Linked DNA regions of Homo sapiens: all the other regions are linked to region 3. Evidence: fine-mapped expression QTL. A gene starts in region 3. Each other region holds a variant in brackets. All regions are shown on one strand. Distances are between the middles of the regions.

Region 1 (7,762 bases), 41 kb before region 3:
CTGAAATGGACTTTTTCAGATGCCCCATGTAAGTGAGATCACACAGTATTTGTCTTTCTGTGCCTGGCTTATTTCAGTTAACATAATTTCCTCCAGGTTCACCCATGTTGTTGCAAATGATAGGATTTCCTCCTTTTGTGGCTGAATAGTATTCCACGTTTCCTTTATCCATTCATCCAGTGATGGACACTTAGGTTGATTTCACATCTTGGCGATTGTGAATAATGCTGTCAATCAGGAGTGCAAAAGACTTAAAAAAGGAAAAATTTGGCCTGGCGTGGTGGCTCATGCCTGTAATCCCAGCACTTTGGGAGGCCGAGGCGGGCGGATCATGACGTCAGGAGATCGAGACCATCCTGGCTAACATGGTGAAACCCCCTCTCTACTAAAAATACAAAAAATTAGCCAGGCATGGTGGCGGGCGCCTGTAGTCCCAGCTACTCGAGAGGCTGAGGCAGGAGAATTGCTTGAACCCGGGAGGCAGAGGTTGCAGTGAGCTGAGATTGCGCCACTGAACTCCAGCCTGTGTGACAGAGCGAGTCTCCGTCTCAAAAAAAAAAAAAGGAAAAAAAAATTTAAAAGATAATGACGTCATTAACATGAGTGTGCAGATATCTCTTTGATGTACTGATTCTACTTTTTTTTTTTTTGAGACAGAGTCTCACTCTGTCATCCAGGCTACAGTGCAGTGGCACGATCTCAGCTCACCACAACTTCTGTCTCCTGGGTTCAAGCAGTTCTCCTGCCTCAGCCTCCTGCGTAGCTGGGATTACAGGCACGTGCCACCACACCTGGCTAACTTTTATATTTTTAGTAGAGACAGCGTTTGACCATGTTGGCCAGGCTGGTCTTGAACTGCTGACCTCAGGTCTCCCAAAGTGCTAGGATTACAGGCGTGAGCCACCACGCCCCAGCCTGATTCTACTTCTTTTGGCTATATGCCCAGTAGTGGAATTGCTAGATCATATGCTAGGTCATATGCTAAATTTTTAAATTTTTTGAGGAATCTCCATACTGTTTTCCACAGTGGTTCCCATGATGGCTGTACTGATTTACATTCCCACCAACAGTGTGCGAATGTCCCTTTTCTCCACATCCTCACCAACACTTAATCTTTCATCTTTTTTCAAATAGCCATTCGGACAGGTATGAAGTGATATCTCATTGTCAATTTTTTTGAGACAGGGTCTCGCTCTGGAGTGCAGTGGCTCAATCATAGCTCGTTGCAGCCTTGGCCTTCTGAGCTCAAGCAATCCTCCTGCCTCAGCCTCCCAAGTAGCTGGAACTACAGGTGCACACCATCATGCCTGGCTATTTTTTTTTTTTAATTTTTTATGGAGACGGGGTCTCACTTTGTTGCCCAGGCTGGTCCTCCCTCCTATGCCTCCCTCCATAAGGCTTTGTAAGCACTGCCAAGCAAGCTATCTCACGGGCCTTTCTTCTTTGTGCCTGTCACAAGGGCAATTTCACATTTGTTTGTGCTGTTATTTATTTGTTATTTATTTATTTATATATTTTTTGGAGACAGAGTCTCACTCTGTCACCCAGGCTGGAGTGCAGTGGTGTGATCTCAGCTCACTACAACCTCTGCCTCCAGGGTTCAAGCGATTCTCCTTCCTCAGCCTCCTGAATAGCTGGGATTACAGGCGTCTGCCACCACCCCCGGCTAATTTTTCTGTATTTAGTAGAGACAGGGTTTCACCATGTTGGCCAAATTAGTCTTGTACTCCTCAATTCAAGTGACCTGCCTGCCTCAGCCTCCCAAAGTGCTGGGATTACAGACGTGAGCCACTAAGCCCAGCCTTGGCTTGTTATTTTATCAGCACCTGTATCAGGGATCTTTGGGTGACCGAAAGCCGAACACAAGCTGACTTAAGCAAGAAGGGCATATCTTGGGTTATTCACTGAACTCGAAGTCAGGGCAGTGATATGATGGAGCAGCTTACTGACTGTGTGCAATCTCTCCCAAGCCTGAGTTCAATCAGCCTGGTGAGAATATTTACACTATGGAAATTGGCAGATGCTATGAATCAGGGCTCTCTTACCCCTCACCCCAGAGCTGATTGTTAAACATTTACCAGCACACCACTGGATGTTTATTTCAGGTATGGCTGCATACAGAGGCCAAATGATGTCACCAACCCCTGACCTCGCTTTATCTCTCTGGCTTTCCTCTGCTGGCTACTCTCAAGCAGGCTTTCCCTTTATGATATGTGACAGTGGTGACAGTTCTAGCCTGCAAGCTTCCAGGGCAAGTGAAGGGCAAGAGAAAGGACCCCTTTCTCCCATGTCAAAGCCTCATTTTGTCTCTCTAGCTCAAAGTGGATTACATATCTGTTTCTTTTCTTTAAAAACATCGTTTTTGGGCTGGGCGCAGTGGCTCACGCCTGTAATCCCAGCACTTTGGGAGGCCGAGGGGGGTGGATCACGAGGTCAAGAGATCAAGACCATCCTAGCCAACAGGATGAAACCCCATCTCTACTAAAAATACAAATATCAGCTGGGCATGGTGGTGTGCACCTGTAGTCCCAGCTACTCAGGAGGCTGAGGCAGGAGAATCGCTTGAACCCACGAGGCAGAGGTTTTAGTGAGCCGAGATTACACCACTGCACTCCAGCCTGGGTGACAGAGCGAGATTTCATCTTAAAAACAACAACAACAACAACAACAACAACAACAAAATACATTGTTTTCGTTTTTTGTTTTGTTTTTTTTTTTAGAGATGGGTCTTGCTCTGTCACCCAGGCTGGAATGCAATGGTGCAATCATAGCTCAGTGCAGCCTCGAACTCCTAGGCTCAAGCGATCCTCCTGCCTCAGCCTCCTGAGCAGCTGGGTCTACAGGCATGCACCACCACACTCAGCTAATTTTTTAAAAAAATTTTGTTGTAGAGACAGGGTCTCACTATGTTGTCCAGGCTGGTTTCAAACTCCTGGGCTCAAGCAATCCTCCTGCCTTGGCCTCCCAAAGTCCTGAGATTACAGGCATGAGCCGTCATGACTGGTAGATTACATGTCTGTTTCTAAACCAATCACTGTAGCCATTTAAAATTGAGTTGAAAAAAATATATAGCCAGGTGTGGTGGCTCACGTCTGTTGTCCCAGCTGCTCAGGAGGCTGAGGTGGGAGGATCACTTGAGCCCAGAAGTTGGAGGCTGCAGTGAGCCATGATTGTGCCACTGCATACCAG[C/A]CTGGGCAATAGAACAAGACCCCCCATCTCAGAAAAAAGGCCAGTGGCAGTTGAAAATTATTTATTGTGTGCCTACTATGTGCCAGGCACTGTTCCAGGCTCTTGAGTTTCAAGATAATCAACATAGGAAAAATCCCCTATGCCTCCAGAACTTATGTTCTAATGAAGGGAGACAGACCAAAACCAAGAATGATCAAAGTCAGGGGTTAAGAAGTGCAACAGAGAGGCTGGGCATGGTGGCTCATCCCTGTAATCCCAGCACTTTGAGAGGCCAAGGAGGGTGGATCATTTGAGGTCAGGAGTTCGAGACCAGTCTGGCTAACATGGTGAAACCTTGTCTCTACTAAAAATACAAAAATTAGCCGGGCGTGGTGGTACATGCCTGTAATCCCAGCTACTCGGGAGGCTGAGGCAGGAGAATTGCTTGAACTTGGGAGGCGGAGGTTGCAGTGAGCCGTGATTGTGCCACTGAACTCCAGCCTGGGTGACAGAGGGAGACTGTCTCAAAAAAAAAAAAAAAAAAAAAAAAAGAAGTGCAATAAAAAATGAAATGGTGGGGAGAGGTAAATATAGAGTGTGGGAAAAAGGCTACAAGTAGAGGGTGGTCAGAGAAGGCTTCACCGAGCAGGTGACATTTGAGTAAATACCCAAATAAAATGAAGAAGCCAGGCACGCAGATGTCAGCATGCGGGGAAGGGTGTTCGGGCAGAGGCAACAGCAAATGCAAAGGCTCTGCGATGAGATGTTGGAGAAAAATCCAGCTCTTGTTTTTTGTTTTGTTTTGTTTTGAGACAGAGTCTTGCTCTGTTGCCCAGGCTGGAGGGCAATGGCGAGATCTTGGTTCACTGCAACCTCTGCCTCCCGGGTTCAAGTGATTCTCCTGCCTCAGCCTCCTGAGTAGCTGGGATTACAGGTGCCTGCTACCATGCCTGGCTAACTTTTTTGTATTTTTAGTAGAGAGGGGGTTTCATCACGTTAGCCAGGCTGGTCTCAAACTCCTGGCCTCAAGTGATCCGCCCGCCTTGGCCTCCCAAAGTGCTGGGATTACAGGCATGAGTCACCGTGCTTGGCCTCAATGAAGCATTTTTGAGTGCTATTTATAACATTTATATTTAATATCGGCATCCCTGAAATTAAAAATATTTTATTAATTTTTTTATTTTTTTAATTTTTAATTAAATTTTAATTTAATTAAATTTAAATTAAATTTTAATTTAATTAAATTTAAATTAAATTTGAATTAAATTTGAATTAAATTAAATTTGAATTAAATTTTAATTAAATTAAATTTTTTAATTTTTAGAGGTAGGGTCTCACTCTGTCACCCAGGCTGGAGTGCAGTGGTGTGGTAAGCTATGGCTCATTGCACCCCGGAACTCCTAGGCTCATGTGATCCTCCTGCCTCAGCCTCCTGAGTAGCTGGGACTACAGGTAAGCACCACCACAGCTGGCTAATTTTTAAAAATGCTTATAGAGACAGGATCTTGTTATGTTGCCCAGGCTGATCTTGAACTCCAGAGCTCAAGCAATCCTCCCACCTCAGCCTTCCAAAGCACTGGGATTACAGGCATGAGCCACCTTGCCCGGTCTAAAAACATTTTAAGAAAAGCGTGCCAGTGATGGTCCAAGTACATTTGGTAGCACATTAGAGCCTTGTTGCCCTTTGGAAGGATGTGTAACCTGGAAGATGTTGGTGTAGAGCGAGGACAGAACCAAGGGAGCCATTCTCAGCAACAGAGCATTTTTCATAATGCTTTCCGTGTGGTTCTTCTTTTTGCCTAGCCTTGTATACAATCAGTCCCCCTCCCAAAATTGAGAAAATGATGAAAAAAATTACACAAAATGTCAACTGAAGAATTATGAGGTTCACAAATTTGGAAAGGAGAGCTTTATTTCTTACAAAGGGTTGCAGCCTACAGGATGCCATCCCACAGGCTGGGAAGCGTAGCCTCAGGGAGAAGCCAGAAGCAGGTACGTGGAGGGAGGAAAGAAGGAGACAGGAATTTATACGGAACTATAAATATTCAACTATACATATTCAACAGGTGACTATACATATTGAACAGGTTATGGGAGGAGCTATGAATATTCATGAAGAGAGAACATACATATGCCTCATCAGCAAACAGCATGTTATATGCATCCTGTGTTCACTTTGGGCAGAGACTTAACATTTAAATGTGTCACAATGAAGCCCTACACATCAAAAGGTGAAGCAGAGGACACGAAGGCGCTCAGTGTACAGCATCTGTAGACTGGTCAGAACCACTCCATGATCTGTGGTCTCTTCTTTTGTTTTGTTTTGAGATGGAGTCCCAATCTGTCGCCTAGGCTGGAGTGCAGTGGGTGCAATCTCGGCTCACTGCAAGCTCCGCCTCCCAGGTTCATGCCATTCTCCTGCCTCAGCCTCCCGAGTAGCTGGGACTACAGGCGCCCACCACCACGCCCGGCTAATTTTTGGTATTTTTAGTAGAGATGGGGTTTCACCGTGTTAGCCAGGATGGTCTCGATCTCCTGACCTTGTGATCTGCCTGCCTCAGCCTCCCAAAGTGCTGTGATTACAGGCATGAGCCACCATGCCTGGCCTCTCTTTCTTTTTTGTTTTTTTTTTTTTTTTTTGGAGACGGGGGGTCTCACTCTGTTGCCCAGGTTGGAGTACAGTGGCCCAATCACGGCTCACAGCAGCCTCAACTCCTAGGCTCAAGTGATCCTCCCACCTCAGCTTCCCAAGTAGCTGAGACCACAGGTGTGCACTACCACACCTGGTGAATATTTTGGATTTTTTGTAGAGATGGGGTCTTGCTATGTTGCCCAGGCTGCTCTCGAACTCCTGGGCTCAAGTGATCCTCTTGTCTCAGCTTCCCAACATGCTGGGATTTACAGGCAGGAGGCACCACACGGGACCTCAGCGATCTCTTATCAGGGAAGAATGCTGGGCAGTTGCTGTGTTGAAACTGCAGACGGGGAGGGGAGTCTGGCAAGTCTTTCAAAAGCGCTGGTTTCTGTTTAACCCTTAGGAAAGAAAGTCTAATTGCAGTTAGCAAGGGAGAGGACATGGGGAGCTTGTCTAACCCCCCCGTTTCATCATGGCTGGGAACTCCATGTGTAAACTCTCTCTGAGGTCTCCCTCGCCAAGGGGGGCTTGTTCAGTTGGTTCAGGAACTTAGGATTTTATTTTTGTTTTTCAAAATGAAGCAAGGAGAGTGAGAAAAGTGATGGCAATGGAAAAGAAAGTATTGAATACAGCCAGGCACAGTGGCTCACGCCTGTAATCCCAGCACTTTGGGGGGCCAAGGCGGGCGGATCACCTGAGGTTGGGAGTTCAAGACCAGCCTGACCAACATAGAGAAACCCTGTCTCCACTAAAACTACAAAAAATTAGCTGGATGTGGTGGCGCATGCCTGTAATCCCAGCTACTTGGGAGGCTGAGGCAGGAGAATCGCTTGAACCCAGGAGGCAGAGGTTGCAGTGAGCCAAGATCGCGCCATTGCACTCCAGCCTGGGCAACAAGAGCAAAACTCTGTCTCAAAAAAAAAAAAGGTATAAGTATTGAATACAAAGCAACTGTACGTTAACAACCATCTTGTTTTATGATGCAAACCCCATGCTTTAAGCATTTTACTTAAGCATTTATGAACATGGTTTGTTGTTACATACAGGAGATTTACATATGATAAAACTGACTATTTTCACTTCTCCATTTCCAGCCTTTAACCTCCTAGCCTAGGAATCTGCAAACATTCGCTTTTTAAAAATTTTTTGAAATTTTTGTTTTGGGACAGGGTCTCGCCCTGTCACCCAGGCTGGAATGTAGTGGTGTGATCACCAGCTCACTGCAGCCTCAACCTCCCAGGCTCAAGTCATCCTCCCACCTCAGCCTCCCAAGTAGCTGAGAACCACAGGTGTGCACCACCATGCCCAGCTAATATTTTTATTTTTTGTAGAGATGACATCTTACCATGTTGCCCAGGCTGATCTCAAACTCCTGGGGTCAAGAGATCCTCCTGCCTCGAACTCCCAAAGTACTGAGATTACAAACATGAGCCACCATGCCTGGCCTTTTTCTTTTTTTCAGTAAAGAAGGGGTCTCTCTATGTTGCCCAGGCTGGTCTCGAACTCCTAGCCTTAAGCAATCCTCCTATCACCTTGGCCTCCCTGTGGTGACAAAAGGCAGAGTAGTGGTTACCTAGAGGAGAGAATGATGGAGACAGGTCCCCAAGGAGCCTGGCCAAATGCTGGAAGTTCTCTGTATGTCTGCCATCCAGTATGTAGCCACTAGCCACATGTGGCTATTTAAATTTAAATGTGAAATTTACTTCCTTGGTATAATGATTCCTGAAAAAAAAAATCAGACATAGAATTATGCTGTGACTCAGTAATTCCACACCTGGTGCTGTAACCCCCCTAGAAGGTGAAAGTAGAGTCTGAAACAGGTATTTGCCCACCTGTGTTCACAGCAGCATTATTTGCAACAGCCAAGAGGTGGGAGCAACCGAATGTCCATCACTGGGTAAACAAATGTGATGTTTCCATACAGTGGAATATTACTCAGCCTTAAAAAGGAAGGGAATT
Region 2 (7,762 bases), 34 kb after region 3:
CAGAGTAGGGAAAATATGAGGAGCCTGGAGCTTCCTGTCGTGCCCGGAAGTAAGGAAGAGTTGGAGAAAAAGGGAAGGATGGGGCATGCCAAAAAGATCCAGTAGTCACCTTGGTAGAGCTCCCAGTGACAAGGCTGGAATCGTTGGAGCCACAAAATAAGTGATGATGACTTTGGATTACAGCCCGGAGAATAAATATCCGTGAGTCCATAAGTATATACATGACTGAATAAAATAAATAAGGGGAGGAGAGGGGACCAATCTTCCTTACAGAATTCCAAATAACAAATGTAGAAGAAATGAGGGAAATAGAAAATCACCTTCCAAACATCACAGTAGTAATTGCTGTAGGCAAGATGCCCTGACAGATGCAGAAAACTGGTGTGCAAGACCTGAAGGAGAAACAGGCAGTTGCATAGCCTCAAAGTTTCTTCCCCTGATATTACTAATTACTGGAGGGTTTTTAACCTGTGTCTACAGACTCTACTACTCCTCCCTCCAGGAAGTACAGCTTACGTCCGTTCCCTGTGGGCCAGCATTGCTTTCGAGGAATAGAGTATGAGAAGGGAAAGGTAGGCCTGCAGTGGGTTGGTGACGCCTGGTGGGAGCCACCTGGCCCATGGGATCAAAGTCACCTCACCAGGCATAGGTCATGCGCCCTGCTGTGCAAGCAGGACAGTTCACCCCACTGGAATTCTCTAACTCCTTCCCAGGTAGCCACAACCTTGGTCTAATCCTGAGAAGACATTGGGTGGCCCAGATTGAGAGACATTCCACAAAATAACTGACCAGCACTCTTCAAAAGTGTCAAGAGTTATGAAATGCGAGGAAAGACGAGAAGCTGTCAGAGACTGGAGGAGCTGAGGGGCATGTGGTGATTAAATGCAACGTTGGTAGTTTGGATTGAGTCTGAAAAGAAAAAAGGACTAAAGTGGAGAAAACAGTAAAATCCGAATAAAGCCTGAAGTTCACTTCATAGCCTTGTTACCAGTGTTACTGTCCTAGTTTTGATCAGCATACTGTGGTAATGTACGATGTTAGCATTAGTGGAAGCTGGGTGAAGGCTGTATATGAACTCTCTGTATTGTCTCTGTAACTCCTCTGTAAATCTAAATTATTTCAAAGAAACAGCAGCTTCTTATCCTGGATGGATCATCAGCTTTTTCTCGAGCATTATTTTATTAACCCTTACACCCATTTGTATGTAGAGGAAAATATATTGATTCACTAATTAAAGTTGATTTTGGAATGTACATGTTTTTAATATTATTTATCTCTCTTTCCAGGGGAGGCGCCACCTGCTGCAGAAGTTTCCTCATCTTTTGTGATCCTGTGTGTGTGCAGTTTAATAATATTAATAGTGTTAATTGCAAACTGTGTATCCTGCTGTAAGGACCCAGAAATAGACTTTAAGGTGAGCACAGAGGGTAGGAACATTTAAAATGGTCTTCCAATATGTTTTTCAATAGAATAACTGGATAGCACAGTCCTTTGGGAACAGGATCAGCAGATTTTTTTTCTTCCCCTAATGGCCAAATAGTAAATATTTTCTACCTTAGTGAATAGTAAATATTGTGGGCCATACAGTCTCTAAAACAGCAGCTCAACTCTGCCAGGATAGACACTGTTACCAAATGGTCATGGCTTTGTGCCAATAAAACTTTATTTACACAAATAGGAGGTTTGGATTTGGTGCATCAGCTGTAGTTTGCTCCGCCTCTGTCATTGACAATAACCACTTGCCTGTGGTGAGTTGAGGTTCTTGCTGAGTGAGGAGTGAAGCGTGGTGATTGAATTCACTGTTGTCCGTAAGGGCTATGAGGAAGAGCAAGATGATTGTTCCCCTCCACCCCGAAACTTCTGTAGACTGGTGAATTTGTGGTCACTGAGATTACTGAGGCAGAGGGATCCCCCAGTGTGTTTTGTGAAAGAGGAAGATCATTGAAACCTCAAGTTCCCTAACAGGGAGGAGGAGGCTGCAGATTGTAAAGTCCTGGCCAGGGAGGGTAATAGAGAAGATCTGGTTATAGCAGCAGACGGTGGAATGGACCAGTGAACCAGCCAGGAAGGCCTCTAGAACTTACTGCATGCCTGCTGGAGTGCATTCGGCCTATGTAAATACTTGTTATAAAGGAATACATGGGGGGGAGAAGGAAGGAATGTGGCGTGCAGAGAAAATGGTCCTTAATGTCACTCCCTGTTGACCGCGCAGGGCTGGCCCAGGAGCCTGGAGGTCCAGTGGTTCAAATTGAGGGAAAAAAAAGGTCGTCTTCTGGCTAAAGCCTTGTTTTCCCTGGACATGGGGCCCTGGTCTTTAGAACCTCATGGCTGTTTTTGTGTGCTGTCTTTACCCCAAGCCTTCTAGTAGCGCTGAGGAGACACACAGATGTGCTGTTTTCTTGGGTCAGCACTGGCCGTATACACACAGAGGGCTGAGAACACAGGAGGGTGGTTGGAAAACACTAATGGAGATCAGTTCCTTTAGAATATTTTGCCCCAGACCTGTAGGGTTTTACTCACAACATCAGTCCCTAGGCCTTAGAACCCCTACACACACTGCTATGGCGCCTGCTGACGGCACTAGTAGTAGGGGCACAGTTGTCGGTGGACAGTTTGTGTCCCTTGCTTGTTAGTCTTGCTGTGGGACTTTACACAGAAACCTGGCCATTTCAGGACAAAGATAAAGCCTGATCAGTGTTGCTGATACTGAAATCCAGTCTCCATCTCACATTTCATGATGCCTCATTCTTGCCTTAGATCATGCAAAGCTTTTTGAATCTCAGGATTGAATGCGGGAGTTCATTTGAGAGCCAGGAATCTGTGTTGTTACCAAGCTTCCCCCGGAGATGCTGGCGCAGGGGCCGCAGTGTCTTAGAGGACTCTCCAGCTCTAGAGTCTGTGTGACTGTGTAAAGAGTATTTCCATCTGTGATTTATTGGCTTTCTCTAGATTTAAAGCTGTGCAGTTTTAGAGCTGATGGTCCGTGGAAGTCATTTTACAGACCAGGAAGCTACAGTCTGGTAACACAGGTGACTTGCCGACATTCATCCAGATAGCCAGCAGCAAAACTTTAAAAGTGACCCAGGCTTATCTAATTTTTCTTCTTTTCTTTTTTCAGACAGGGTCTCTCTCTGTCACCCAGGCTGGATCACACTTCACTACAGCCTCAACCTCCCAGGCTCAAGCAATCCTCCCACCTTAGCCTCCCGAGTAGCTAAGGTTACTGCAGGCACACGCCATCATTCCCTGCTAAGTTTTGTATTTTTTGTAGAGACAGGGTTTCACCATGTTGCCCAGGCTGATCTTGAACTACTGGGCTCAAGTGATCCTCCCGCCTCTGCCTCCCAAAGTACTAGGATTACAGGCGTGAGCCACCGGGCCTGGCCATTTTTCTTATTTTTATACTACATTACCTGGTCTGAATCTTTAGAATCATCTGTTGGTATATCTAGTGGTACATCATGCTGCTGCCAAATTTTGAATGGCATTATTTTAAGGTAGGAGTGATGGACAAAATCATTTTACAGAGAGAGCCCTATTTAGGAATGTCCAAAAGAAAATTGAAGGATTTCCTCTGTTCAAAAATCCCCTCCCAGATTGAAGTTACGGTACCTCATTTTTCTTGCTCCCAACTCCATCAATACAAATAGCAATAATGTCCTTTAATGCACTGGAGAACATACATGAGAATAATGTCTTCTCACACGCATATGGAAACACAAGTGTTAGAGAAATCTACCATTGTAACTTTTAGTTTCTTTCTTGTATTGGATGGGGGCTAGGAGAGGTGGTAGAGAAAATGAAAATAAAAGTTCATAGACTGTTCAGTGGAGAACAGTCTTGTTCACTGATCTGTTCCCAGCTTCTGTTATGGTGCCTGGAGGGCTAATACATGTTAATTATCTGAACAAATGATTTGATGAATGACTTGATAATTGGCCGTGTCTATGGTAAATTAACATGGATATCAAGGTATACCAGTTCACCAGAATGGTGACGGAAGAATTGCGATAGCTTCCCACCGAACGTCACGTAAAAGGTTTCCACAACTTTCTTTCTTTCTTTCTTTCTTTCTTTCTTTCTTTCTTTCTTTCTTTCTTTCTTTCTTTCTTTCTTTTCTTTTCTTTTCTTTTCTTTTCTTTTCTTTCTTTTCTTTCTTCTTTCTGTCTTTGAGATGGTCTCGCTCTATCACCCAGCCTTGACCTCCCAGGCTCAAGCAGTCCTCCCTCAGCCTCCTGAGTAGCCAGGACTACTCCAGTAGTCCTGCGCCACCATGCCTGACTAATTTTTTTAAATCATTATTTGTAGAAACAGGGTCTTGCCATGTTGCCCAGGCTGGCCTAGAGCTCTCGGGCTCAAGTGATCCACCTGCCTCAGCTTCCCAAAGTGCTGGGATTACAGGCATGAGCCACTTTGCCTGCCTGCATCCTCAGTTGTAAAGTTGTCATCTTTAGAAAGCCAGACGTGCTTATATGTTAATTACACTTATGCGTCACATGGTTTTTTTAGTGACCTTTGTGGTTCAGATCCTGGTGATTTTTTTTAGCTAATTTAGTAATGTTTCCATTGTTACTCTTTTCAGAGAAATAGAACTCACTTAAAAATATCTTTT[C/G]TGAGTCTTTCAACATTTATTTTGATAGAAATCACATTTCAATTAGAAATGCATATACAACTTTAAAATAAAATGATTTATTTTGATTCAGTATGCAAAGAATCATGTCACAAAAGTAATAATATTAAAAGAATTGCTTGGCCAGGCGCTGTGGCTAACATCTGTAATCCTAACACTTTTGGAGCCTAAGACAGGAGGATTGCTTGAGATCAGCCTGGGCAACATAGGGAGACTCTGCCTCTACAAAAAAAAAAAAAATTCAAAAAATTACCTGGGCGTGGTGATGCGTGCCTGTGGTCCCAGCTACTCGGGAGGCTGAGGTAGGCGGCTCACTTGGTTCCTGGAGGTCCAGGCTGCAGTGAGCCATGATCATGCCACTGTGCTCCAGTCACTGTGCTCCAGCCAGGCAACAGAGCAAAACCTTGTCTCAAAAAAAAAAAAAAAAAGAATTGCTTAAACTGTAGTCATTTGAGAGTAAATTTTTAAGCCTAGAAAACTATTTTTGTGTAAATTCCATTGCATTTAACTTCAAACTAACAGTTTAAAAACTTACATGAAATATGTATAATTTATTTTCCTGTCTTATGTATTCTGCTGTTTGGAGTCAGAGAACAAAATTACATATGCTTTTTACTTAACATTAAGTACAAACTGGAAAAAAATAATTGTGGCAGCAAGTTCCAAATCATTGTGCAAATATGTTCCTATTTTAAATGTTAGCCAATGGTTTTTAATGCTTGCTCTCTTTCATTTTAGGAATTTGAAGATAATTTTGATGATGAGATAGATTTCACACCACCAGCAGAAGACACTCCCTCTGTTCAGTCCCCAGCAGAGGTCTTCACACTTTCAGTACCAAATATTTCACTCCCAGCTCCCTCGCAATTCCAGCCTTCTGTAGGTAAGACCATACAGCCTAATGCCACGTTTTCATGAATTGTTTCTGAGATCTGAGAATGGGAGCCTAGCCATCATAAATATTGGACTGCCCATCTCCTCTTTGGTTTATTTCTCTTCCTTCTGCTCCCAGTGAAGCTGAATTCTAGTGGTCAGGCCCATTGTATTCCTGCAATAGCTTTGTCTTCTGCTTTCTGGACCCTGGGTCTGGTATGAGAATAAAACGAATCTCCTTGATTCATTGACATTGAACACCTGGCCAGAACTCCCAGGCTCTGTTCTGGAGGTGGTTTCTCTGCTAGTTCTGGCCACGGCTGACCTTGCTGAGTAGGACTCTGCTGGCTTCCACTGGGATGCCCTGCATTTGGGTAGGAGAGGAAAGTTTGGATATGTTAATCAGATTGACTTTTCTAAGCTTCTTCAGACAGAGGTTTGGTTCTGTGTTAGTTGATGTCTTGTGAAAAAATAGAATGTGACTAGAAAAATAGAATGTGACTATAGTTTTTTTTTTTAGAGTTTGAAATTTAAGCCCTTTTTAGAGTTAGAACTTTTTGTGGTCTTAAGAAATTCTTATTCTGTGATTAAAATAATACCTTTTAAAAAATATTTTAAGCTTTTGCTTTGACCAAAGAAGTAGGTTCAAGAAGTAGGGTTTTCTGAGATTGCCGCAAGAAGGCTGTGTAAGTCTGTAGATGCTAGGACTACCTTTTCTGGTGTGACACACGCTGTGGGCTCTGCCTAGGGCAGAATAAACCCCCGAACTGATGCCACTGCAGGCAGGCATGACTATAAGAAAAAGCCAGATGGAACGTGACATAGTTGGTGCATTTCATTTAAATATTTGTAAAGTAAGAATATATTTAAATTTATAGATTTTGCAGCATTAAAAAAAACAACCTGGAGTGTTTAATTGCTGTAAATAACAATACCCCTACTCCAACCAAAATAATGAAGTTTAAAAGGAGGTCTAATATATTCTTGGGATAACTTAAGTATACTTACTCTAAATGGAAATATTTTATTGTTGCTTGTTTGATAATTTGCTTTCCTTTATACTTAAGAAAAACCTGGAGAGACTTCTCAGAGCTTTTACAGGCCCATAGTCGATCCCCGGTGGATTCATTTCAAGTAGCTGAATTCCAAATTAGATCAGCCTAAGTGGAAACGAGAATTTTCTGACACATGGACCCAGACCGTAGGAAGAACAGGGGTTCAGCTGACCTTGGAGACAGCTAGAACCAGGGCCTGGAACATCATCAGCATTTTAATTCATTTCTGATTTTCTCTTCTCTTTGCATATCTGCTGAATCTCTTAGGCAGCTTCTCTGCTCAGTAGGGAGGTTGGCTGCCAGCAGCTCCACACCCATTCCCTTGTAGTTTTATAACCATAGAGGAAAGGAGCTTCTTTCTCTCTCTCCTTGGACCAGAAAGAAAACCCTTTGGAGGGACATTCTGGTTGTCTTCACCTAAGTCACAGGATGCAGAGCCATCACTGGTCAGGAAGGTGGGGACAGACAGACAGCTTCTCTTCAGGATCTACTGGGGATGGATGGGAGCACAGTCAGATGCAGGCAGAAGAGAAATTATGGTGACCTGGGCAGCCATTGTAATTTTGTTTATATACACACCCCTTTCTGTTTTACTGAAGCCCTGTACCCTAATATCCCTCTCCGTAGGAAGAAATTATTTTAAATTTCTCTGAGTAGAATACCCTCAGAATATTTTTATCATCTTGGGATACGAGAGGCCTTTCCAAGCATGCACCAAATCCAGAATCCATAAAGGAACATACTGCCAAATCTGATTTACAAAAATGAAATATTCTGTATAGAAAAAGACACCACACACAAATTGACAGAGTCGCAAAAAATATTTGTGAACTACAAACAGTATTAAAAACGGTTACATATCAAGAGTACAAACAAATGCAGGATAAAAAGTAACACGCTACTAGAATAAATAAGCTGAGGACATGAAAGGAGAATCTCAAATGGCCAATAAACATAGTAACCTCGTTATTAATTAAAGAAATGCTGACTTAAGCTGAGAGCAGATAGGTAAAGATGAAAAGAAATGACACCAGGTAGTGATTGGCGAGCATGTGGAGAGCAGCAGGCAGTCTCATCCACTAGGATTAGTGCAGCTATAAATTGCTGAAGATGTTCTTTCTGGAGGGGTAGTCGGGCAACATGTATCAAAATATGAGACATGTTGACTCTTGATCGAGCAGTTCCACTTTTAGTAATTTATCTT
Region 3 (7,762 bases):
TGGGGGAGCTCCAAACCTATTCTGCCCCCTCTGGTAGCTGCTAGCCTGCTTATTTCCACAGTTCCCATGGTGGTGAAGTTGCTGGTTTTCAAGGCTATCACAGAGGTGGGGAGAGAAGAATGGAAATAGGGCAAGTAAAAATTTCATGAAGCTCATTATTCTTATGAGATTTGGCCATTTTCCTTTTCTTTATTTTAAGAGACAGGGTTTCACTATGTAGCACAGGCTGGAGTGCAGTGGTGGAATCACAGTTCACTGCAGCCTCAAATTTCTGGGCTGAAGCAATCCTCCCATCTCAGCCTGCCAAAGTGCTGGGACTACAGGCATGTGCCACTGTGCCTGGCTAATTATTTATTTTTAGTAGAGATTGGGGTCTCACTATGTTACCCAGGCTGCTCTCAAACTCCCAGGCTCAGGTGATCCTCCTACCTCAGCCTCCCAAAGTGTTCGTATTACGGGCGTGAGCCACCACACCTGGCCTCAGCCATTTTTCTTTAACAAATTGACTCATGATATTGCAAACCTCTGGCAAATTCCTAGAGTTCTGAAGAAGTTTATGTGGACAATTTTGCTAGTGCTCTTCTTGCCTTCCATTCTTCAAGTATCAGTCCATTCTTGCATTGCTATAAGGAATACCTAAGATTGGGTAATGTATAAAGAAAAGAGGTTTAATTGGCATATGGTTCTGCAAGTTGTACAGGAAGCATGATGCTAGAATCTGCTTGGCTTCTGAAAGGCTTCAGAAAACTTACTATGATGGCAGTACGCAAAGGAGGAGCGAGGCATCTCACACGGTGGGAACAGTAGAGAGAGAGAGGGAGGAGGTGCTACACACTTTTTAAACAACTAGATCTCGTCAAAGATCACTCGCCATCACAAGAACAGCACCAAGAGGATGGCGCTGAACCATTCATGAGAACCCTCTCCCATGATCCGATCACCTCCTACCAGGCCCCACCTCCAAAACTGTGGATTACATCTCCACACATGAGACCGGGTGGGAACACAAGCCCAAATCGTATCCAAATGCTTCCCTCATGACCTTTGTTTTTAAAATAATTTGTTTAATTATACATTTATATAATTTATTTATTTATTTTTGAGATGGAGTCTCACTCTGTTGCCCAGGCTGGAGTGCAATGGCATAATCTCAGCTCACTGCAACCTCTGCCTCCTGGGTTCAAGTGATTCTCCTGCCTCTGCCTCATGAGAAGCCGGGATAACAGGTGCCAGCCACCATGCCCAGGCCATCTTGGCCTGGCTGGCCTTGAACTCCTGACCTCAAGTGATCCACCTGTCTAGGCCTTCCAAAGTGCTGGGATTACAGGCGTGAGCCACTGCCTATAACTTAAATTTTAACAATGGCTGTGTTGAACAACCAATGCGCATAATTCCTGAACATGTTAACAATTGGCTTTCATGAGTTGGCACCAGCAGCTCCAGGACCCCACCAACAGGCCTCCTGGGTGCCCCATTTGATCCAGCTGAGCTCTGTGAACCTTTAGAGTATCTGCTAGGTGCCAGAGCTCCAGAAGTGCTCATCCAATACTAAGCTGACTCCACATCCTTCAGCATCCAGGCCTCAGCCAGAGCTTGCTGGCAGGACAGACACTGGCAGGAGGGTCTTCCAAGCGATAGCTTGGCATGAAGGAAAACTTGAAAGAGGCTTGGCATGAAGGAAAACTTGCAAGAATGGCTGTAAAGGGCTGGGCGTGGTGGCTCATGCCTATAATCCCAACACTTTGAGAGGCCGAAGTGGGCAGATCACTTGAGGTCAGAAGTTCAAGACCAACCTGGCCAACATGGTGAAACCCTGTCTCTCCTAAAAATACAAAAATTAGCCAGGTGTGGTGGCGGGCGCCTGTAACCCCAGCTACTCAGGAGGCAGAGGCAGGAGAATCACTTGAGCATGGGAGGCAGAAGTTGCAGTGAGCCAAGATCACACCACTGTACTCCAGCCTGGGTGACAGAGCGAGACCCTGTTTCAAAAAAGAAAAAAAAAAAAGAATGGCTGTAAAACACTGAAAGATATTGCTTCTAATCTTAGGTATTGATTTCCAAATTGTGCTAAAGGCTGTTTTCTGACTTCTGGGTGAAACTAAACAAAGCCAACAGGTTTTTGTTTGTTTAATAACATCTCTAACTGGAAGTCTTCAAGTATTGAGTAAAGGCATACACGGTGAGGTGGGTGGTGGGGCAAAGGCTGCCTTTAGACATCATCTGGGGGATGTGCACTGTAACCCCTGTTCTGTGAAAGAGGAAAAGAAGTTTGTTTATTTGTTTGTTTGTTTTAACTTTTGGGCTTGCTCAAATAATAGCAAAATCTACTTTGGGATTGTGGTCCAACGTGCTGTTGGAGTGCACTTTAGTTGTAAATAACCACTACCAGGATTATCAGGTAAGGCCTTCCTTAGGCCAGCACTACAGCAGGCAGTCACGAGCCTCCTTGCAGTACACAGTGTGGGTGTCCCTGGCTTCTCTGAACTCAAAGTGAGAAGCTTCCTGATAGAAGTAGAAGTATAGGCTAGGCGCGGTGGCTCATGCCTGTAACCCCAGCACTTTGGGAGGCCGGAGTGGGCAGATCACGAGGTCAAGAGATCGAGACCATCCTGGCCAACATGGTGAAATCCTGTCTCTACTGAAAATACAAAAATTAGCCAGGTGTGGTGGCGGGCACCTGTAGTCCCAGCTACTCAGGAGGCTGAGGCAGGAGAATCGCTTGAACCCAGGAGGCAGAGGTTGCAGTGAGCTGAGATCGCACCACTGCATTCTAGCCTGGTGACAGAGACAGACTCTGTCTCAAAGAAAAAAAAAAAAGAAGTAGAAGTACAACAGGGTGATTGTGTCTCTTTCCTAGACCTTTGCCTTCCTTACCAATTCTGCATATAATCAGCAGAAAGCCGTGAACTTTTTTTTTTTTAAGACAGAGTCTCGCTGTGTCGCCCAGGCTGGAGTGCAGCGGTGTGATCTCAGCTCACCGCAACCTCCGCCTCCTGGGTTCGAGCAATTTTCCTGCCTCAGCCTCCCAAGCAGCTGGGATTACAGGCATGCGTCACCGTGTCTGGCTAATACTTTTTGTATTTTTAGTAGAGATGGGGTATGACCATGTTGGCCAGGCTGGTCTTGAACTCCTGGTCTGAAGTGATTCACCCACCTTGGCCTCCCAAAGTGCTGAGATTACAGGTGTGAGCCACCGTGCCCAGCCAAGCCATGGACTTTTAAATTCAATGTTTCTCGTTCCAGGTATTTGTCTCCTTAGATATTTATTGGCTTGCCTCAATCATCCAACAAATATTCCCTGGGCATCATCTGTGTGTCCAGTGCTGTGTTAACATCATCGACAGCTGGCATTTAGGATGGACATTTGGGGAGTTTGGAGAATTGGGGAGGTTACACTGTTGCCAGGTGGCAAAGTCTCATCTGATAAGATTGAAATCAGCTCCTCTCATGCACACACTGAACCATAGCGCCTCTCCAGAAAAGCTTAGCATTTTCCCAACCCCCATGCCTCTGACCACTATATTACTTGTGTCTGGAGAGTGCTTTCTCTATCCTCTCTGCAGGACTGTGTTCTCACCTCACCTCTTGGTGGGGAGAAGGCCACCCCTGGGAGCTGCTCTGCCCTGGTACCTGGGACCAGGGCCATGCACCATTGCTTTAGAGAACACCTGCTCCGACCCAGGTCCTGCACCAGGGATTTCCCACCAGCTGAATCAGACACAGTTGCTGTCCTCAGGGAGCTTACAGTCACGGGTCAATAGGATACTGCAGCTAGGATAGCAGTCCACACAGGGCCAGGGCGGGGCACTAAGGAGATGACAGTCATTTCTCCTAGAGAGTCATAGATGAAGTCATATGTCAGGTGAGTCTCGACAGATGAAAGGAAGAGTGTCTGCCAGGTGGACAAGAGGCAACAGCTTGAGCTCAGGAGGTGAGTCAGTGGGTGATGCCGAGAGAGGCATTCTCTTGATCAATTCAAGTGAAAAGCCCAAAGCTGTTTGATGGCTGAGAGGATGTGTAGGTCAACTTAAGGAGAAGAGCCTAAAACAGCTCTGACAAGTAAAAAAAAAAAAAAGGCAGAAGACAAGACAGGCCTATTTTTGCATGTTATAAAACACCGAGAAAAAAATATCAGGATGATTGTCATGGTCTTCTTTACATTTTCCTGTATTTTTCAATTTAAAATAATTGTTGGTGTTACCTGCTGCCCACGCACTCCTCCGTCTGCAGGGGGCGCACCGGCCGCCACCGCTCACTCCTTCAGGATGATGGGCGGGGCCTCCTGGGCCGGTGTGGACTGACGAGTGGCTGGCCGCCCTGTCCATCACGACATCCCGCCCCCGCGCTACGTCACATGACGCAGCCCATCATGGCGGCGGGAGCGCGGCTTCCCAGGCCCGCCGCTCCGCAGGGCTGCTGGCGTTGCTGCTGTTGAGAGGCGGCGGCGGCGGCGCAGGCGGGCGGGAAGGATGGTGTTTCTGCGACTGGAGCGGCAGGTGCGGACCGGGAGCCGGACCGAGGTTTGGCAGAAGCAACGTGTGCTCGGGAGCAACCGGCGCGGGTGCCACTGAGGCAGCGGAGGGAGGCAGGATCGACTGACGGGCGAACGGACGGACGGACGGAAGGCGACTCGAGGGCCGGCCCCGGAGCCGCGCCGTGGGCGAGATGCCGGGGCCGCCGGCGTTGCGGCGGAGGCTGCTGCTGCTGCTGCTGGTCCTCCTGATCGCCGGCAGTGCTGGGGCCGCGCCACTTCCGCAAACAGGTGCAGGTGAGCGGGCCCGCGGCGGGGACGGGGCTGCGGGGTCTTCGGCGTGGAGGGGAGGGGGCGGCAGGGCCGGGCCGGCCTCGGCGCCGAGGAATCGGAGGGCCTGCCGGGGGCGGGAAGCCCAGGGAGGCGAGTGATTAGGGAGATTTCTGCCGCAGGGGCGTGGGATTTGGGGGGGCGGGAGCGAGGCGACGTCGTTGGGGCTGGGGAGGGCGGCGGGCGAGGTAGCAGCCACCGACCCCTCCCGGGATAGGCTGCGGTGCCGGCCCTGGACCTGTTGCCTTAAGATCCTCAGCTTATATCGCTTCCTGGCAGTTCAGCTTCCCTTTCCAGATGTCACCTGCCTCTTGTGCTTTTTTTTCGCATCTCATAAGAACCGTTTCTTAGCCCTAATCATACTTAAATGCAAATGACTTGGCGAGCTGTGCGGAGTTTGTTTTCGCTCCTTGCAACTTATTCTGAAGTTGTAAATTGATTTTAGACGCTGTGCTTTTTATTCGGAATGTATCTCCGGGGATGAGAAGGAAACAACTATAAATATTTCTATTTTAGGAAGCCAGTGATTAGAGTAGCAGGCGTTGAATAACTATTGACAAACTGGCTTAAGGGTGATGGAAGTTTCTATTTTAGCTAACGTCAGTGTATGATTTTCTTTTCTCCCCCCCCGCCCATTTTCTCAACATCGTTTTTATTTGGGGTTTATTTTCCTAAATAAAACTTCAACCCAAGAAAACATCCCAAGTTGGGTCATTTTTCTAAAAAGGAAAAAAAAATCTAGGCTAACTTGGCGTTATTGACTGCCGCCATTACCTTTGAAATGGGGAAAGATTGAAATTTCATACATTCATAGAATGTTAGAGTTAGAAGAGACCTTAAAGAAAATTTAGACCAATTTCTTCTTTACGTAGTAGGAGATACTGGGCATGTTGGGTCAAATGACCTACCCAGGGTGACACAGCTTCGTTGTAGGCAGAGCCCCAAAGCCAGGTCTTAGATACCCCTAGTTGTATGATTTTTTTTAAGTCTTGTAACTGTTTTGGAATACTCTCGAGGTCAAGAGTTATTTTGGAATAATGTTAATTGGGTACAGAATGTGGATGTACTGTCTCCAGTAAAGACATATTTTTCAAACAAATCTACGATGAAAGCTACATGTAATTGCTTCCAGAGCTACATCAGGGTTTGTCATTGAGTGCCCTTTAGTTGAACGTTAAATGTCCTCATTGTACCGTATAATGTAGCACTAAATTTCTGTTACTGCCTTAGATCAAATACTTGTGAGGTGAATTCTGTTTTCTGATCCGATAGATAAGAAGAGTAAATGTTATCAGATGTGTATAGGCAACCCCGGAAAGAGTCACAGGAAATGCCTGGGAAATAATGAAAGATTATGTGGAAGGATGGTGATGTTGATATTTAAAGATATTGATATTGAAAGTTAGCACTAGTATAGTGTAGTAGGTAAAGAGTATTTATATGATGGGGATTCAAGAAATTTCCAGATGACTTTACACTTAATTGGATTTTTATATATTTTGAAGTATCGATTCTTTATAGGAACCTATGTCTGCCTGCACACTTTTTTTTTTTTTTTTTTTTTGAGACGGAGTCTTGCTCTGTCACCCAGGCTGGAGTGCATCATCGGTGCGATATCAGCTGACTGCAACCCCCCCCTTCCGAGTTCAAGCAGTTCTCTGCCTCAGCCTCCTGTGTAGCTGGGACTACAGGCCCCTGCCACCATGTCCGGCTAATTTTTGTATTTTTAGTAGAGACGGGTTTCATCATCTTGGCCAGGCCGGTCTTGAACTCCTGACCTCGTGATTCACCCGCCTCAGCCTCCCAAAGTGCTGGGATTACAGGCGTGAGCCACCGCGCCTGGCCACCTGTACACTTCTTACACGGTTTTTATTCCATTCTTTTACAATTTTATGGTGTCATGAATTATAAAATGAATTTTGTTGGGGTGTTGTAGAACAAAGCAATCAGAAAAGTTAATCTGTAAATAGAGATATCAAATCTTGACATACATATAGCATAAGGAAATATTTGGTAATTTGTAGCAACTTTTGCTACAAATTTTCCTTTCATATTCTGATCTTTGTAGGATAGGTGTATATGTTTTGACGTGTTGCATATGAATAATGGGTACCTAGGGTTAAAGTCTGTGGAAAAGACGCACAGTCAGGCCGGGAGCAGTGGATCACACCTGTAATCCCAGCACTTTGGGAGGCCCAGGTGGGTGGATTGCTTGAGGTCAGGAGTTCGAGACCAGCCTGACCAACATGGTGAAATTCCCTCTCTACTAAATATACAAAAATTAGCCGTGCGTGGTGGTGGGAGCCTGTAATCCCAACTATTTGGGAGGCTGAGGCAGGAAAATTGCTTGCACCCAGGGAGCGGAGCTTACAGTGAGCCGAGATTGTGCCACTGCATCATAGCCTGGGCAACAGAGTGAGACTCCGTCTCAAAAAAAAAAAAAAAAAAAAGAAAGGAAGATGCACAATCAGACATAGATATTCAGGGGCTTGTCTCTCCATCCAAAAGAGTTTATTGATCCTCGTTAGCTGAGGTGGGTTCTTGACCAAGATATATTAGACCAAGTTTAAAAAAAAACCTTTAAGCTAATCCTGACTAGTGAGCTCGCTGGTTAAAAAAGAGGAATCCCGCTTGACCATGTATGGTAGATAAAAGAGCAGTTACACGCCAAAAACCTAACTAAAGCTTCTGGTAATCTAGGAGCCTGCACTCCTTGTGAAGATAGAGCTAGACACTTTCAAATAAGGATAGACCCATTTCATAGGGTCTTTCGCCTCCTTGTTCTTCTTTCTGCTTGAAGCCTGATCAGTCTATCCAGTTTAATGGTGCCTTAGAGAAAGCATGCAGTTAACTGAAATTCAGCTTTTAAACTGAAGATCATTTATCTATGGTGTCTTCATCATCTAGATTCATTGCTAGACTCAGAAGCTGAAAAAGATATTTTCTTATTCAGTCATAATA
Region 4 (7,762 bases), 21 kb before region 3:
TTCATATATATATAAATATATATATGAATATATATTTTGAAACAGAGTCTCTCTCCGTCACCCAGGCTGGGGTGTTTTGGCACAATCTCAGCTCACTGCAACCTCTGCCTCCTGGGTTCAAGTGATTCTCCTGCCTCAGCCTCCAGAGTAGCTGGGATTACAGGCACGCGCCACCATGCCTGGCTAATTTTTGTATTTTTAGCAGAGATGGGGTTTCACTAAGTTGGCCAGGCTGGTCTCAAACCCCTGACCTCAAGTGATCTGCACATGTCGGCCTCCCAAAGTGTTAGGATTATAGGCGTGAGCTACCACGCCCAGCTCATTTCACATGGTCTTGACCTCATGGCTGCATTGGAGTTTCTTTTTTTTTTTTTTTTCGAGACAGAGTCTCACTGTGTCACCCAGGCTGGAGTGCAGTGGCACGGTCTTGGCTCACTGCAACCTCCGCCTCCCGGGTTCACGCCATTCTCCTGCCTCAGCCTCCCGAATAGCTGGGACTACAGGCGCCCGCCACCACGCCCGGCTAATTTTTTGTATTTTTAGTAGAGATGGGGTTTCACCGTGTTAGCCAGGATGGTCTCGATCTCCTGACCCCGTGATCCGCCCACCTCAGCCTCCCAAAGTGCTGGGATTACAGGCGTGGGCCACCATGCCCGGCCTGCATTGGAGTTTCTGTGCTCAGGGCCTGTACTGCACAATCAGGCCTTTCTGGGGACATAGCAGCTGACACTGCCGGACCCCAGCTCTCTGGCCAGGTCTCTGGCTCCCATGGACAGCCTCTCCAGAGAGTCACCATTCACTACCCGTTCTCCCACCAGACAGAGATCAAATGTACACCATAAGAACTGTAGTTCACAATATCATATTGTATTTGGGATTTTTGCTAAAAGAATAGATTTTAGGTTGCTCTTGCCAAACACACAAATGGGTAACTATGTAAAATGATGAATACGTTCATTTACTTGGATATAGTAACCATTTGACTGATTATATGTATATCAAAACGTCATGTTGTACACCTTAAATATGTATAATAAAAAATAATAAAATAGCAAACAAAAAAAAAAAGCCTGAGGCCTCCCCCCTTTTTTCTTTTTATTTTCTTTTCTCTTTTTTTTTTTTTTTTTTTTTTTTGAGACAGTCTCACTCTGTCACCCAGGCTGGAGTGCGGTGGTATGATCAGGGTTCACTGCAGCCTCAACCTCCTGGGCTCAAGCAATCCTCCCATCTCAGCCTCCCGAGTAGCTGGGACTACAGGTGCACACCACCATGACTGGTTAATTTTTAAATTTTTTGTAGAGATAGGTCTTTCTATATTGTCCAGGTCAGTCTCAAACTTCTGGGCTCAAGTGATCCTCCTACCTCAGCCTCCCAAAGTGCTGGGATTATGGATGTGAGCCTCCACACCTGGTCCCATTCTTTTCTTTGAAATCCCCCCCACTTTTTTTTTTTTTTTTTGTAGCGTGAAAGAGTTTGCAATCATTTTTCTCTGTGAGAATTATTAGCTCACAAATTTTCCATTTCTTAGCCACCTCGGTAAGAAGAAAAATCACAAATGGTTGTTCTCCAAGGAATCGGGGGGTCGTCAAGCAAGACCCACATAAATGCCACCAGCAGAGGAGAACAGAGGCTGTTTCCAGGGCTGCCCAGAGATGTCCCACATATTTTTTGTCACCTGATACCTCCTAGGGGCAAAGAAGTCCCCATTTTCCAGCTAAGAGATAGCTGAGTTGTTTTATCTTCTGGTATTGGCCTCTGTGCCGAAGCCCCCTCTGATCTGTCCTTTCCCTGGGTCTCCATCCATCTGCCTGAGCTGGACGGAGCCTCAGCCCTTCCAGAAGAGAGGTTGTAACCGAATCACAGGTTCAGTCACTCGCCACTTGCAAAATTCCATTAACAAGCGCGAGGTCTGGTGGCTTTTTATTTTAAAGCTAGTTTGTGGGAAGAAGTGCAGGCTTCCTGGCTTAAGGGTACCACTTCGCTTTTGGAGCAGAAAGTGTGCACTTTTAAAGCGGGGGTCTGGCATGAATGGCATGCAGGGGAGAAAGTGAGCAGGTGGGGGTCTGCCCAAATTTGTTTGGTGCCTTATTTACTGGGCAGTCAAGCTAGCACCTTCATGAGCAGAACTAGGTTGTAAACTCTCCAGGTGGGAGAGAGTTTCAGTCTTCAGAGTGGCTGAAACTATCCAGTGGGGAGAGAGTTTCATAGTGGGCATACTTTGGGTTGTAAATAGACCGTTGTCTCTCAAGGCAATCTAATGGGAGTGAGTTCCACGCTGGAGTTTCTAAGCACATAGTTAGATAAGCTTGCCCTGCAGGGAGTGTCTGGTGAAGGGGAGGTAAAAGGTTATCATGTCATTCCTTTTTGTGTGTGGCAGGGGAGGGATAAGGTCTTGCTCTGTCTCCTAGGCTGGAGTGCAGTGGTGCGATCTTGGCTCACTGCAACCTTTGCCTCCTGGGTTCAAGCCATTCTGGTGCTTCAGCCTCCCCAGTAGCTGGGATTACAGGCATGTGCCACCACGCCTGGCTAACTTTTGTATTTTTAGTAGAGATGGGGTCTTGCCATGTTGGCAAGGCTGGCCTCAAACTCCTGGCCTCAAGTGATCCACCTGTCTCGGCCTCCCAAAGTGCTGAGATTACAGGTGTGAGCCATCGTGCCCGGTCAAGGTATGATTGCATTTCTAAAGGGCTAAGTAGGAAATGAGGAACAGGGGAAACAGAAAAGAGGAAAAAATAATAAATAATTACTCATTCTCTTTTTCTTAGAAAAATAGGGGTACTTGGTTACTAGGTGAGCAGATGGGGTTGGTCAATTTCCCCCAAGAGGAAATAGATGCAGAGAGAGAAACTAATAACCTCAAGGCCCAAATGAAGTCAGTAGCAGAAGGCTGGCTTCCTCAAAAGCCCATCCTTCCTGCTGATGATCAAATACTGCCCTAGTCTTCTTGGCATCACCCACAGGAAAACAGAGGCACTCTGATTCCTGCATGGGTAAAATGGGCACAGCTCCACCCTCAGAGGACTTATTCAGGGGAGCGATGTCATACCTCACAGGAGATGCCTGCGAGCCACCTGGGACACACAGCTGTCCAGGCATCCTGAACCAAGTCTGCAATTGTTTATGGCTTATTCATGGGGAATCAGAGAAGGGCAAACACGCTTGCCCTCTTAGCAGATGAGTTGTGGGTTGTGATTACAACCTGGGTGTACAAGGGGCAGTGAAAAGCCCAATTTCTTT[C/CT]TTTTTTTTTTTTTTTTGAGAAGGAGTCTCATTCTGTCACCCAGGCTGGAGTGCAGTGGCGCGATCTCAGCTCACTGCAACCTCCACCTCTCGGGTTCAAGTGATTCTCCTGCCTCAGCCTCCCAAGTAGCTAGGATTACAGATGCCCGCCACCACAGCCGGCTAATTTTTGTATTTTTGGTAGAGACAAGGTTTCACCATGTTGGACAGGCTGGTCTTGAACTCCTGACCTCGGGTGATCCACCTGCCTTGGCCTCCCAAAGTGCTGGGATTACAGGCATGAGCCACCGCACCCAGCGAAAAGCCCCATTTCTGTTTGTTTGTTTTGTTTGTTTGTTTGTTTTTGAGACGGAGTCTCGCTCTGTTGTCCAGGCTGGAGTGCAGTGGCGCGATCTCAGCTCACTGCAAACTCCGCCTCCCGGGTTGAAGCGATTCTCCTGCCTCAGCCTCCCGAGTAGCTGGGATTACAGGCATGTACCACCATGCCCAGCTAATTGTTTGTATTTTTAGTAGAGGCAATGTTTCACTGTGTTAGCCAGGATGGTCTTGATCCCCTGACCTCGTGATCTGCCCACCTTGGCCTCCCAAAGTGCTGGGATTACAGGCGTGAGCCACCATGCCCAGCGAAAAGCCCCATTTCTAACAAAGTTTGGCAATTAAATAAGTAGCCACAACTCCTTCTGCTATTAAATAATAAAGCCATTGAGTGTTACACAGAAAGAACCACAAATTCCGGCCAAGCCTGTTGGTGGCTGTTGGAACCGCCCTAATAAACAATTTCAGGTACAAGCAGGTGTGGCAGAGGGAGGTGCAGGAAGTTCCCTGGGGCCTCCCAGCCTAGGCCCCCCAGCAGTGGGAGTGGGGGCCTGCTGGTGAGGCCTGGCTTCCTGCTGGGCTCTGAACCCAAAAAGAAGCCAAAGGCAGACCCAGAGAGCAACTGCAAACAGTGATGAGATGGTTGATTTGGGTGACCTTGGACCCGGGATTCTGGACTGCTGGGTTACAGGGGAGTCACTTCCTCACTTCTCACCTTATAGGGTCACATGGAGCGTTTGCTCCCCAGCGATTTGGGGAAGGTAGAAGCGACTCCTTAGAGTATCTTGAAGTAGGGGCTTACAATCAGACAGACAGAGAAAAAGCTCCCCCTATTCCTCTTTCCCGCTGCCCCTCACTGAGATACGTGGATGAGACAGGGTGGCATTGCATGGGGTGGTGGAGAGTCCCAGGCGGGTCTTGCTGGAGGAGCTCCCCAAGGACTCCCTTTGCTGGAAGGCTCCAGTCCCCGTTCTGGTCCAATGCCAAGGAAGGGACAGAGGATGACGCTGCATGAGCTGATTAATCCCTGGGAAGACAACGGGCCCTGCCCTACCTGCCCATGTGCCAGTCTGGCACCAACTCGCCCAGCCTGTTCCAGCTGGCCTGGTAGAAACTGACGCAGCAGGTGACTCCCTCGGTTTTATGGGCTTGGGGCAAAAGTCGTGTGGCCAGCAGAGTGGCTGAGGCAGGTAGAGTTTTCCACAGCGGCCTGGGCTCTCCTTGTCCTAGAAGTCTAACAAGTCATCTTCTTGTTTACCCTGGTGCCTCCCTGGAACATAACCTGACACATCACGGGCACTTCCTGTGTGTGTTGAAATAATTGTCAAAGAATTGGTAAGGAGCAGATGTGAGCAGAACATGTGCCCTGCGCAAGAGAAGCCCGTGGTCCCCAGAAACTTACAATTCTTTTCTTTTTTAAATTTTTTCTTTTTGTTTTTAAGATAGGGTCTTGCTGTGTCACCCAGGCTGGAGTGCAGTGGTGTGATCGTGGCTCACTGCAGCCTCTACCACTGGGGCTCAAGGGATCCTCCCACCTCAGCCTCCTGAGTAGCTGGGACCACAGGCATGTGCCACCATGCCCAGCTAATTTTTAATATTACTGTTTTAAAATACATGTAATTGTATTGAGTCTATCTTCTCTAAGGACAAAGGTTTACTCAGCAACTATTAACTTCAGGGTAGAGCTTGTTCTCCACCTCTGCTCTTCACCCTACTCCCCAGCCCCGATCTCACCAGAAAGCAAACCTTAACAGGGTCTCTCACCTGAGGGGTATCCAGGAGCAATTTGGTCCACACCTCATCTTCGCAAAAAGCTTTTAACGTATACTTTGTTGTTGTTGAGACAGGATCTTGCTCTGTTGCCTAGGCTGGAGTGCAGTGGTTCAATCATGGCTCACTACAGCCTTGATCTCTTAGGCTCAAGTGATCACAATCCTCCTGCCTCAGCCTCCTGAGTAGCTGGGACTACAGGTGTGCGCAGCCATGCCGGCTAATTTTTTTTTTTTTTTTTTTTTTCTGTAGAGATGGGGCCTTGCTATGTTGCCCAGGGCAGTCTTGAACTCTTGGTCTCAAGTGATCTTCCCACCTCAGCCTCCCAAAGTGCTGGGATTACAGGCATGAGGCACCGAGGCATGAGACGGGCCTCAATGTACACTTTTGACGTTATTCGGTTTTGACTCTGATACTTAGCAAGGATGCCGGAGCCAGGCTACCTGAGTGTGAACCCTGCTTCTGTCACTTACTAGCTATGTGACCTTGGCCAAGGTCCTTATCTTCTCTGTTTCTGTCTCCTCATCCACAAAATGGGAATAAGGATAGATTAAGCCAATCACCAAAAGCAACCTATTGTATGATTTCATTTATATAAAATGTCAAGAATCAGCTGAATGCAGTGGCTCCTGCCTGTAATCCCAGCATTGTGGGAGACCAAGGAGGGAGGATCACTTGAGGCCAGGAGTTCAAGACCAGCCTGGGCAACATAGCACGACCCTGTCTCTACCAAAAATAAAAACAAAAAAGCCCAGAACAGGCAAATCCATAGAAGCAGGAAGTAGATTAGTGGTTACCAGGGGGAATGGATGGGGAATGACAACTAACGGGTAGAGTTTCTTTTGTGGGTGATAAAAATATTCTAAAATTAGATAAAGCTTAAAGAGTTATTACTTATAAAGTGCTTACAGCAGTGTCTGACACATCAAAAGTGATCTGCAAGTCATTGTCGAATAAAACTTACCTCGAAAGGAAGGCATGAATACTAATGAGCTTGGAAAAAAAATGTTCATAATACAATTTTAAAATGGTATTTCATTCCCGAATCTCACTATCTGCTGTGTACTTTTTATCAATCCTGCTGTAATTATTTTGTGCATAGCATCATTATATAGCTGTATAAATTATGTACATTAAAAGTGTTAATTTGTTAGACTTAAATGTGTTAGCACGTTTTTACCATATTGGGTGGTTTCCGCACCCCCTCCAAAAATGGGTGGTGGCTCAAGGCTCTGTTGGCAGCTGGTGAGCTGTCCCTGAGTTACACAGGTTTAGAGGCAACAACAGGTAAGGACTTTGCACAAAGGCATTTGGAAAGACAGCCAATTGTCCATCATGATATCTCATCATTGCCCAGTTTGGTAATTGATGTATCATTTGCATTAATGATATACCACACATCATTATGCAGATAAAGTCGGCTATCATCCAGAATGAGGCACACAGCCTTTGATTGGCAGAGAACTAGGGAGAGTCAAATGACTTTTAACCTACTTGGTCTCCTTATTTGCCTAATGCTGAATTAAAGTCACGCAACCATGACAGGGATTCAAGTCAAGCAAAGGTGATCGTAAAGACCCGCAGGAGGGTGTCCTATGGCGAGGCCACTGATGTGCCGGCTAGGGGTTAACAAGTGGCTCTTGGCTGGGTGCGGTGGCTCATTCCTGTAATCCCAGCACTTTGGGAGGCTGAGGTGGGAGGATCACTTGAGCCCAGGAGTTGGAGACCAGCCTGGGCAACACAGCAAAAACCCATCTCTACAAAAAAATGTAAAAAAAACTCAGCCAGACGTGGTGGTGCATGGCTGTAATACCAGCTACCTGGGAGGCTGAGGTGGAAGGATTACTTGAGCCTGGGGAGGTCGAGGCTGCAGTGAGCTATGGTCATGCCATTGCGTACTCCAAGCTAGGCGACAGAGCAAGACCCTGTCTCAAAAAAAATAAATAAATAGGCGGGGTGCTGTGGCTTATGCCTGTAATCCCAGCACTTTGGGAGGCTGAAGCGGGAGGATCATGAGGTCAGGAGATCGAGACCATTCTGGCTAACAGTGAAACCTCGTCTCTACTAAAAATACAAAAAATTAGCCAGGTGTGGTGGCAGGCACCTGTAGTCCCAGCTACTCGGGAGGCTGAGGCAGGAGAATGGCGTGAACCCGGGAGGCGGAGCTTGCAGTGAGTCGAGATTGTGCCACTGCACTTCAGCCTGGGTGACAGAGGGAGATTCCATCTCAAAAATAAATAAATTAATTAATTAAATAAAATAAATAAATAAATAATAGAAAAAAGAAGACAGGAAAAGACACCAGGTATGCATGTGGCCGGAGGAAAGACCATGTCAGAGAGAACGCAGCCATCTACAAGCCAAGGAGAAAGGCCCCAGGAGAAACCAACCTGGTCAACACCTTGATCTTGGACTTCCAGCCTCCAGAGCTGTGAGACAA

Alleles and levels. Positions count from the first base shown, and alleles are read on the strand shown. Sizes are in standard deviations (SD) of each study's normalised expression. Not every link is listed here.
For the expression in fibroblasts of the gene that starts at base 4,350 in region 3, C is the high allele of the variant in region 1 and A is the other (small effect, 0.38 SD a copy in GTEx).

What was found. PIP is the estimated chance that this variant, and not a neighbour inherited with it, causes the effect. A credible set is the group of variants that fine-mapping cannot tell apart.
Region 1: its variant is the best candidate, but not a certain one, in a credible set for the expression of LMTK2 in fibroblasts (GTEx, PIP 0.51).
Region 2: its variant is the best candidate, but not a certain one, in a credible set for the expression of LMTK2 in whole blood (INTERVAL, PIP 0.54).
Region 4: its variant is the best candidate, but not a certain one, in a credible set for the expression of LMTK2 in whole blood (INTERVAL, PIP 0.78).

Annotation. Positions count from the first base shown.
Region 1 is chr7:98,061,161-98,068,922 of GRCh38, forward strand. No RefSeq gene overlaps it. Among named protein-coding and RNA genes, the nearest start is that of LMTK2, 42 kb to the right of the region's middle. The variant C/A (reference allele first, on the strand shown) is at 3,190.
Region 2 is chr7:98,136,029-98,143,790 of GRCh38, forward strand. It overlaps LMTK2 (lemur tyrosine kinase 2), which reads left to right. Exons shown (of 14, transcript NM_014916.4): 2 at 1,287-1,414; 3 at 5,369-5,513. Among named protein-coding and RNA genes, the nearest start is that of LMTK2, 33 kb to the left of the region's middle. The variant C/G (reference allele first, on the strand shown) is at 4,613.
Region 3 is chr7:98,102,513-98,110,274 of GRCh38, forward strand. It overlaps LMTK2 (lemur tyrosine kinase 2), which reads left to right and starts at 4,350. Exons shown (of 14, transcript NM_014916.4): 1 at 4,350-4,768. The coding sequence starts at 4,666.
Region 4 is chr7:98,081,777-98,089,538 of GRCh38, forward strand. No RefSeq gene overlaps it. Among named protein-coding and RNA genes, the nearest start is that of LMTK2, 21 kb to the right of the region's middle. The variant C/CT (reference allele first, on the strand shown) is at 3,238.